Homo sapiens: one gene and its partner. The protein of the gene in region 1 purifies or fractionates together with the protein of each later gene. This does not show direct contact. Each region holds a gene or a part of one and is shown on either strand. Other genes may lie near its edges. The genes, in order: PTF1A and RBPJL.

Region 1 (3,876 bases):
AGGGGGCTACCCTACGCCCCCCGCCTCAGGCTCGCCTTCTCCCCAGGTTGCTGGCCGAGGAGGGCCAAGTTCTGATGAAGGCAAAACGAACTCAGTTTTGGAAGTAAGCCTGTTGCGAAGGTGGCAGGGGTAGCGGGCGGCTTCTTCCTACCTTACCTAAAAGACCCTGGATTTTGTTGAGTGGCCTCCGAGTGGTCTCTAGGCTTTGGCACCGTAGCCTGTCCCATCTCCTTTGTGAGGAGTAAGCCTGAGTTCCAGGTACCTGATGCTGTTGCTGCCGAAGAGGTTGGTCACAGGGCAGCTCAAGAGTAGCCCCTTTCCCAGCCAGTGGAAGCAGAAAGGCCCATTCGCTTAGCCCACTAGCTCCCTGCTCCCACAGTGCACCGCGCGCTCACTTTTATACACCAGGAATAGACAACGTAGGGGTGACCTTGGGTAAGTCAAATGTCATCTCTGAGCCTTAACTTTACCATCTGCAAAATGGGAACAATAAATACTCCAGGATGTATTTGCATAGGGTGTTTGGAAGGTGGCCCAAAATACAGACAAAAGTTGCTGTGTAGGGCAGGCGACCTAGATGAAGTGCTGTCATAGAAAGTTGAGGTCTAATCCTCTAACCTACCCACCTTTAGGCTAAGTCTGAAATGTAGTTTCTTACTAAAAAGCTACACTTTGAGTCTCTGGTTTGGTTAATTTTTACTAAGTTAATTCTTTTTAAAGAGTATCTATCAAATCATGTACTCAAAAACCTTCAGGAAAAGGTGTAAATAGCATTTATTGACAACGCTTAGAAATAAACCATATCTGGCAATAAATAAGCAGGACGTTTTCTGGCCAGAGTTCTCCCAACAACACAGAGTTCAGGAAAATCATAGGCTATTGCATATTTTCAGAAAATCAGGATAAGTTATATAAATTATATATTTAAAAAGAAATCATCTATTTCATCAACTCAACAGGATAATAAATAGATAAATAATAAACAGTTGATTGCCATTCGAAAAATTTGATTCTTAAATTACATTTACATTATAGATATTTACATGTACAATATGCACAGAGACATAATCAGATCTTCAGCCGAGTCTGGGACTTCTCAGGACACAAACTCAAATGGTGGTTCGTTTTCTATGTTGTTGAAGGAAGATTTGCTGTTGAGTTTTCTGGGGTCCTCTGGGGTCCAGACTTTGGCTGTTCGGATAATATTTTGTTCCTTGAGTTGTTTTTCATCAGTCCATGAGAGAGAGTGTCCTGCTAGGGGAGGGAGGCCATAATCAGGGTCGCTGGGGGAGGGGGACCCTGGACAGGTGAGAAGAGAAAACAGACTGTGAATATCCAACCACATTCCCATTGGTCCCATCAGGTCCTTTAGGACCCTTTCCTGGGTGCTCTCCGGTTATACTAGAACCACCCTCTTCCTCCACACTTCAAGTCCCCACCGTCCCCTCCCAGGAATCCGAGGAGCTGCAAGTCTGGCGGGGACGCGCGCCCTTGAGAGCCGCGGTCAACGTGGCAGAAAAATAAAAAAAAAAAAAAAAACGAGAAACGCGAGCTCGCATTCAAGTTTTTCCGTGCCCACCGACAATCCGTCGGTCCGACTGTCTGCTTGGCAGTCAGCTCCCCCAGCCCCTCCGGAGCCTTCGAGTGCCCGACCCCTTCTCCCTGAGCTGGGAAGCGGAAGCACTTACGGGTGCCCCGATGGCAGATGATGACCTTCTGGGCCTGGCTGCCCGGGCTGTCCCCGCCCAGGCGCCCGCCGCCGCCCGGCCCCCCGCAGCCGCCCGCGCCACCGCCGCGCAAGGGCAGGTCGGCCTGCACGAGCTCGCTGAGGAAGTTGATGTAGCCGATGGCCAGGCGCAGCGTGTCCACCTTGGAGAGGCGCTTCTCGTAGGGCAGCGTGGGGATGTGCGAGCGCAGCCCCTCGAAGGCGTCGTTGATGGACTGCATGCGCCGCCGCTCGCGCACGTTGGCCGCCTGCCGCAGCTGCTGCAGCTCCGCCTCGGAGCGCACCCGCCGCCGGCGCCGCGCCGCCGCAGCCGCCGCTCCGCTCAGGCCGCGCAGCCGCGCCCCGGGAGACAGTACTGCCGCCCCGGCGCACGGGTAGGCCAGGCACGAGGGCGGCGAGCCGGGCGAGTAGGGGAAGCCGCCTGGGGGCGCCCCCGTCTCGCAGCAGTAGCCGCCGCCGCCGCCGTCGTCTGGCTCACCGAGGCCCCCCGAGGACGGCGGGGCGAGCGCTAGCGGGGCGGCCGGGGGCGCGGGCTGCAGCAGCAGGCACGCCCCGTCGCGGTAGCAGTACTCGTGGAGCTGGTGGCTAAGGAACTCCACCTCGGCCTGCTCGTCCGCCAGCAGCTCATCGCCGTCCTCCAGGGGGTCCCGTGAAGACTGGTCGGTGAAGAAGTCGTCCTCGTCGAAGTACGAAGAAGGAAAGGCGTCTAGGCCCCCGGGGAAGTGCTCCAGCAACACCGCGTCCATGCTCGCCGCCGCAGTGGGCAGCGGGACTGCCGGGCTGCGCGTGTTAGTTCTTGGTGAGTTTCTAAGGCCCGTCCGAGCCCCTCCCTCCCGGGGCCCTGGCTGGGGGCAGCTAGGCGGCCGCCGGGCTGCCCGCCCCCGGGCCTCCCTGGAGTGCCCGCGGCCGCTGCGCTCTGGCCCGCGCTCGCGCTGCGCTGGGGAGGGCTGTGGCGGACTTCCTGGAGCTGAGGGCCGGCACGCGAGGATTCTTATAACAACATCCATAGGCGCGTGCCAGGGACCCATCGCGCCAGCCAATCAGAGCGCGGTGTGCCGGCGGCGAGGGGGCCCGGAGGCGCGGCGGTGGGCGGGGGTGGGGGGCGTTTTGCTCCCTTTGGGAGCTCCTGGGGCGAGGAAAAGGCGGGGTCGCGCGGCCCGGGGCTCCTCGCACCGCTCTCTTCCCTCTCCTCTGCCTCTGCATACTGGATTCTGTACCTGCCCCGCGTGCGGCTCCAGGGGCACCTGCGTCCCGCGGTGCCCGCTGCGTACCCGCGCGCGCTGAGCAGCGCCGGCTCCTTCCGCCCTGGGACTGGGGCAGCCGCGCGCCGCGTCTACACGCGGCCAGAGAAGTTCCTAGGGGTGCGCGCCGGTGGCCCAGACGGCGAGAGCGGAGCCCGCGCGGCGATCGTCCTCCTCCGCGGCAGCCTGGGCAATCTAAGGGTGCTGCCCTCAGGGACCAGGTGGGTGCATTCCGCCACCCCCTTATCCGAGGTGCGCGGGGCTCCGGCCTGGGTTCTGCTGGGGGCTTCTGTCCCATCTCTGGACTTTTCAAGGGCTTTTGCACAGTTTGCAGAGTATATGCGGGTGTCATTGGAAGGTGATCCGGGCCCACTCCCACTGCGTTCCAGACGCAACACGGGGGCTGGGAGCGCACCTATGGGACTCCGCTCTGGAGCCTGGCTGTGGTGCCTGGTGCGGGTCCCCAGCGACATCGGCTCAGTGGCTGCCTCCCCTGCCCTCCCCGGCCCGGAGAAAGGAATGGGGAGACGGGAGGGGCAGCCCCCAGAGCAGCTCAGCGGGGCGCGTTTCTTCTGAGAGCAAATCTAGACCCTAGGGATTCTGAGCAATAAACTGGATACAAAAGGAGTCCATTGAATCGTCTGCTCCGGCGCAGTCCGGAGGGAAGGCATTGAAGTTAAAGGGCAGAATGTGAATCGTTTTCAAAGCCCGAGTCTCTCACCTTTCCGACTGGCCACAGGGACCATCCCTGAATGACTTGTTTTTTTCTTTCTCGACCTTTCTTTTCTGAAAAAAAAAAAAAACACAAAACGTATGCAGCTCTGCCCCAAGACAGACTTTATCACAGACTGCGATGCAACGTGAATTCCTCTTTTTAAGAGCAACAAAGAAACACTTTCAAGGTCTGGG
Region 2 (3,809 bases), on another chromosome or scaffold:
GGCAAGGAAGCAGGGCCTAGAACCCAGAAACACGTCCCCGCGCCTGGCGCGGGCGCAGCCCTCCAGGGTGGGCAGCCGGGGCTACCGGGCGCGCCTAAGTCTGGATGAAGAGGTGGAAGTTGGTGCGCGTGAACTCCTGATGGATGCTCTCCAGGAGCGCGTCGGCGTCGGTGGCGGGCTCGGGGACGCCGGGGTGACCCGGCCGCACGCTGTATTCCGGGGTGTAGGTGAAGGAGAAGGCACTAGGGTAGAAGAGCCCGTCGGCGCGCACCAGGCTCATGGGGATTGTGATGGGAGCGCGCAGCCAGCGCCAGTCGCTGCAGAAGGCCGCCACGTCCGGCACCACGCACACCAGGGACCGCGGGCTCCTGGGGGTGGAGCACCAGGGTGAGGGCTGCGGCGACTCCGACGACGCGTGCACCCCCTTCCCCTGCTCCCCGGGGCCCAAGAGAGGCTGCCTCACCACCCCGTACCTGTACATGGTTTCTGCCTCCACGTCCCCAAACCACACCTTGAGCCCCGCGTGGAAGTTCTCTCCGTGGAGCTCCAGCGTGGCCACGTCGCCCCCGCCGCTCAGCTGGGGGAGGGTGGGACCAGGTGAGGTGAGAGAACCAAGTAGGGCGGGAACCCGCTGCCCCCCACTCACTAGCACCACCACTGCCCAGTGCAGGCAGGGTCCCCCTGCCCAACGCCCCTAGCGCCCGGCTTCACCTCTAGGGTGCTGATGAGAGGCACCGGAGTGACCGGCTCCAGGGTACACGCCAGGCTGGTGCTGAAGGAAAATTCCACCGACTCGGTGCCGATGATGGTCCAGCAAGAGCTGTCGTTAAGCAGAGCCCTGTTCGCCTCCTTGGGGCAGGGAGAGGCCTGGGAGGAGACCCAAGGGGACGAGGCCGAAGCTTCTCATGGTGGCCACCAGTGTAGGGAGCCAGCATGGCGCGTGGGCTTCTGCGTTAGACCGAACTGGATACTAATCCTAGGCTCTGGGGTTCACTTGTCCCCTCAGCTTGGACAGTGCCCTTAAGTTCTCTCACTTAGCGTTAAGAAAGCTTGTTGAGCTAGCTGATTTCTTCTTTCTTCTTTCTTCTTTCTTTTTTCTTTATTTTCCTTCCTTCCTTCCTTTTCTTTTTCTTTCCCTTTCTCTCTCTTTTTTCCTTTCTTTCTTTTTCTTTCTTTCCTTCCTTCCTTTTCTTTCTTTCCCTTTCTCTTTTTCTTTTCTTTCTCTTTCTTTTCTTTCTTTCTTTCTTTTTCTTTCTCTCTCTCTCTTTCTCTCTTCTTCCTTCCTTCCTTCCTTTCTTCCTTTTTTTTTTTTTGAGACTGAATCTCGCTCTGTCGCCCAGGCTGGAGTGCAATGGCCTGATCTTGGCTCATTGCAACCTCCGCCTCCCGGGTTCAAATGATTCTCCTGCCTCAGGCGCCCGGGTAGCTGGGATTACAGGTGCCAGCCACCACGCCCAAATAATTTTTTTGTATTTTTAGTAGAGACAGGGTTTCACCATGTTGGCCAGGCTGGTCTCAAACTCCTGGCCTCGTGATCCTCCTGCCTCAGCCTCCCAAAGTATTGTGACTACAGGCATGAGCCATTGGCCCGGCCTGGGATAGCTGATTTCTAAGGGTCTTTTTTCTTGGGATTCCAGAATTTTTTTTTTTTTAACATTGTGCAATTCTATGCTCTAATAATCTACAATTTTAATATTCTTTGGGAAGGAATATTCTTGGGGAAGGAATAATACTTGCTATTTTCCACATATTATAATTCTATCTCGTAACATTCTATGATAATATTCTTTTGGGAGTACTACTGCTTAACGATAATTATTATTTTCCACATTCTATAATTTTCCACATTCTGTGTCTTTATCTGTGCTTCGAATAGTCTTTGCTCATTAATTCTCTGCTCTCTATTACCTATCATGATTTTTATTTACATCCTACAATTTTATATCCCAATTTATTTACTTACTTTTTTTGAGATGGAGTCTTGCTCTTGTCACCCAGGCTGGAGTGCAATGGTGTGATCCTGGCTCACTGCAACCTCCACCTCTCAGGTTCAAGCAATTCTCCTGCCTCAGCCTCCTGAGTAGCTGAGATTACAGGCGCCCACTGCCATGCCCAGCTAATTTTTGTATTTTTAGTAGAGATGGGATTTCACCATGTTGGCCAGTCTAGTCTCGAACTCCTGACCTCAGGTGTTCTGCCCACCTCAGCCTCGCAAAGTGCTGGGATTACAGGCATGAGCCACCGCACCTGGCTATATCCCAATATTTTATGACTCTAAAATTCTTTGGGAAGGAATATTGCTTCATACTATTACTTATTACTATTTTTCTACATCCTATGATTCTGTCCTGGGAGTCTATGATTTTAATGTTCCATGGGAGGCTGCTCAGGAAGTAGCAACCATGGTGAGGGTGATGATCTTACATTCTGTGGTTCTCTGCATTCTCCCTTTCCAGGACACTTGGTGCTGGTATTCTCTGCTTCTTACCTGAAATTGCACCACCTTCTCTGTGGCAAGGCATAAGTAGGTGCCACCCCCTCCTGGGGGACTGCCTGGAAACTGGAATGCACACTTGTGCAGCTGGGAGATGGGCTCATCCACATCAAGGAGCGCACACTGTTTTGCTACTTTACGGATGATCTGCAATGGAAGGATGGTAAGAACAGTGGTGGCAAGGAGCCCGGGCGTCCAGAGGCTGCCCTCCTAGCCGGCTGTCTGCTACTCCAATAGCCACACAGGCACTAGCAGATTCCCCCTGCCCTTTGACTTCTGTCTGGTCCTACGCGACACTGGGTGAGAACAGGTGTCTCCATGCCTTGGGGCCTCACTCTCCAGCCCTGCCCGTGTGTGCCACATTCTCTGCATGGATCTGAGGGGACCCCTCCAGGCATGCCCTCCCTTCCTATACCATGGGAGGTAGTGTGATGCCGGTGACCGTGCAGACGAGCTGCACCAGGGAGCCATAGCGAACGTAGCCCTCTCGCGGTGGGAAGTCTCCTTGGGCAGAGTGCCCATCAGCTGGGGGACAAAAAAAGCAAGGGACAAGGTTTTCAGCGGCCCCCAAGCTTCTGCCTTAAACCCTGCCTTGTTGCCTCTGGCTCTTCCTCACATCACACATGGGCCCTGCGGGAAAGCTTGGTACTCAGGGGAGCCAACTGAAGGTTCTAATTCTGGAGAGGCCATTTGAGGCCATCCTCACAAATGTCTGCCCTGGGGGCAGGGGTTGGGGGCAGGCAGCTTAGTTGATATATGGGGAAAGGGCATGGATAAGGGAGTCAGAATAGCTTGGAACAGTCACCAGCTCACTGGGACTGTAGTCAAGTCTTTTTGTGTTTCTGAGCCTTAATCACATGGGGCAGAGTTTACCTTCCTTAAGGAGTTGTGGTGGAGGTTAAATAAGCTAATGCATGTGAAGTGCCCAGCTCCAGGGCCTGCAGATGTCATTACCCAGGTGGAGCGTGAAGGCAGCCCACTGTCGTGCACTGGCCACAAAGGCCCCATCCTCCACAGAGAGGTAGCGTGTGGAGACCGTCTGAGAGCGCAGGCGGTTGAAGAGGGAGACCTTTGAGCCGGAGGATATGCACACTGTGAGGGTGAGGGTCAGGGTTAGGGTGAGGGTGAGGGTCAGGGTTAGGGTGAGGGGATAGGGTTAGGGTTAGGATTGGGGTTAGGGTTAGGGTGAGGGTTAGGGTGAGGGTGAGGGTTAGGATTAGGGTGAGGGTTAGAGTGAGGGTGAGGGTAAGGATTAGGATTAGGGTGAGGGTTAGGGTGAGGGAGGGGGTCAGGGTGAGGGTTAAGGTTAGTTGGT

What was found.
Region 2: the proteins of PTF1A (region 1) and RBPJL purify together in Homo sapiens (affinity purification with western blotting, with the first as the bait; one study listed by BioGRID). This does not show direct contact.

Annotation. Positions count from the first base shown.
Region 1 is NC_000010.11:23,191,127-23,195,002, reverse strand, and holds PTF1A (pancreas transcription factor 1 subunit alpha), read right to left. Parts: upstream 2,692-3,876; 5' UTR 2,473-2,691; coding exon 1,689-2,472; intron 1,300-1,688; coding exon 1,097-1,299; 3' UTR 758-1,096; downstream 1-757. UniProt on the Homo sapiens protein: Transcription factor implicated in the cell fate determination in various organs. Binds to the E-box consensus sequence 5'-CANNTG-3'. Plays a role in early and late pancreas development and differentiation.
Region 2 is NC_000020.11:45,313,245-45,317,053, reverse strand, and holds part of RBPJL (recombining binding protein suppressor of hairless-like protein), read right to left. Parts: intron 3,587-3,809; coding exon 3,449-3,586; intron 3,020-3,448; coding exon 2,910-3,019; intron 2,642-2,909; coding exon 2,489-2,641; intron 868-2,488; coding exon 712-867; intron 578-711; coding exon 474-577; coding exon of another isoform or gene 464-473; intron 369-463; coding exon 95-368; 3' UTR 1-94. UniProt on the Homo sapiens protein: Putative transcription factor, which cooperates with EBNA2 to activate transcription.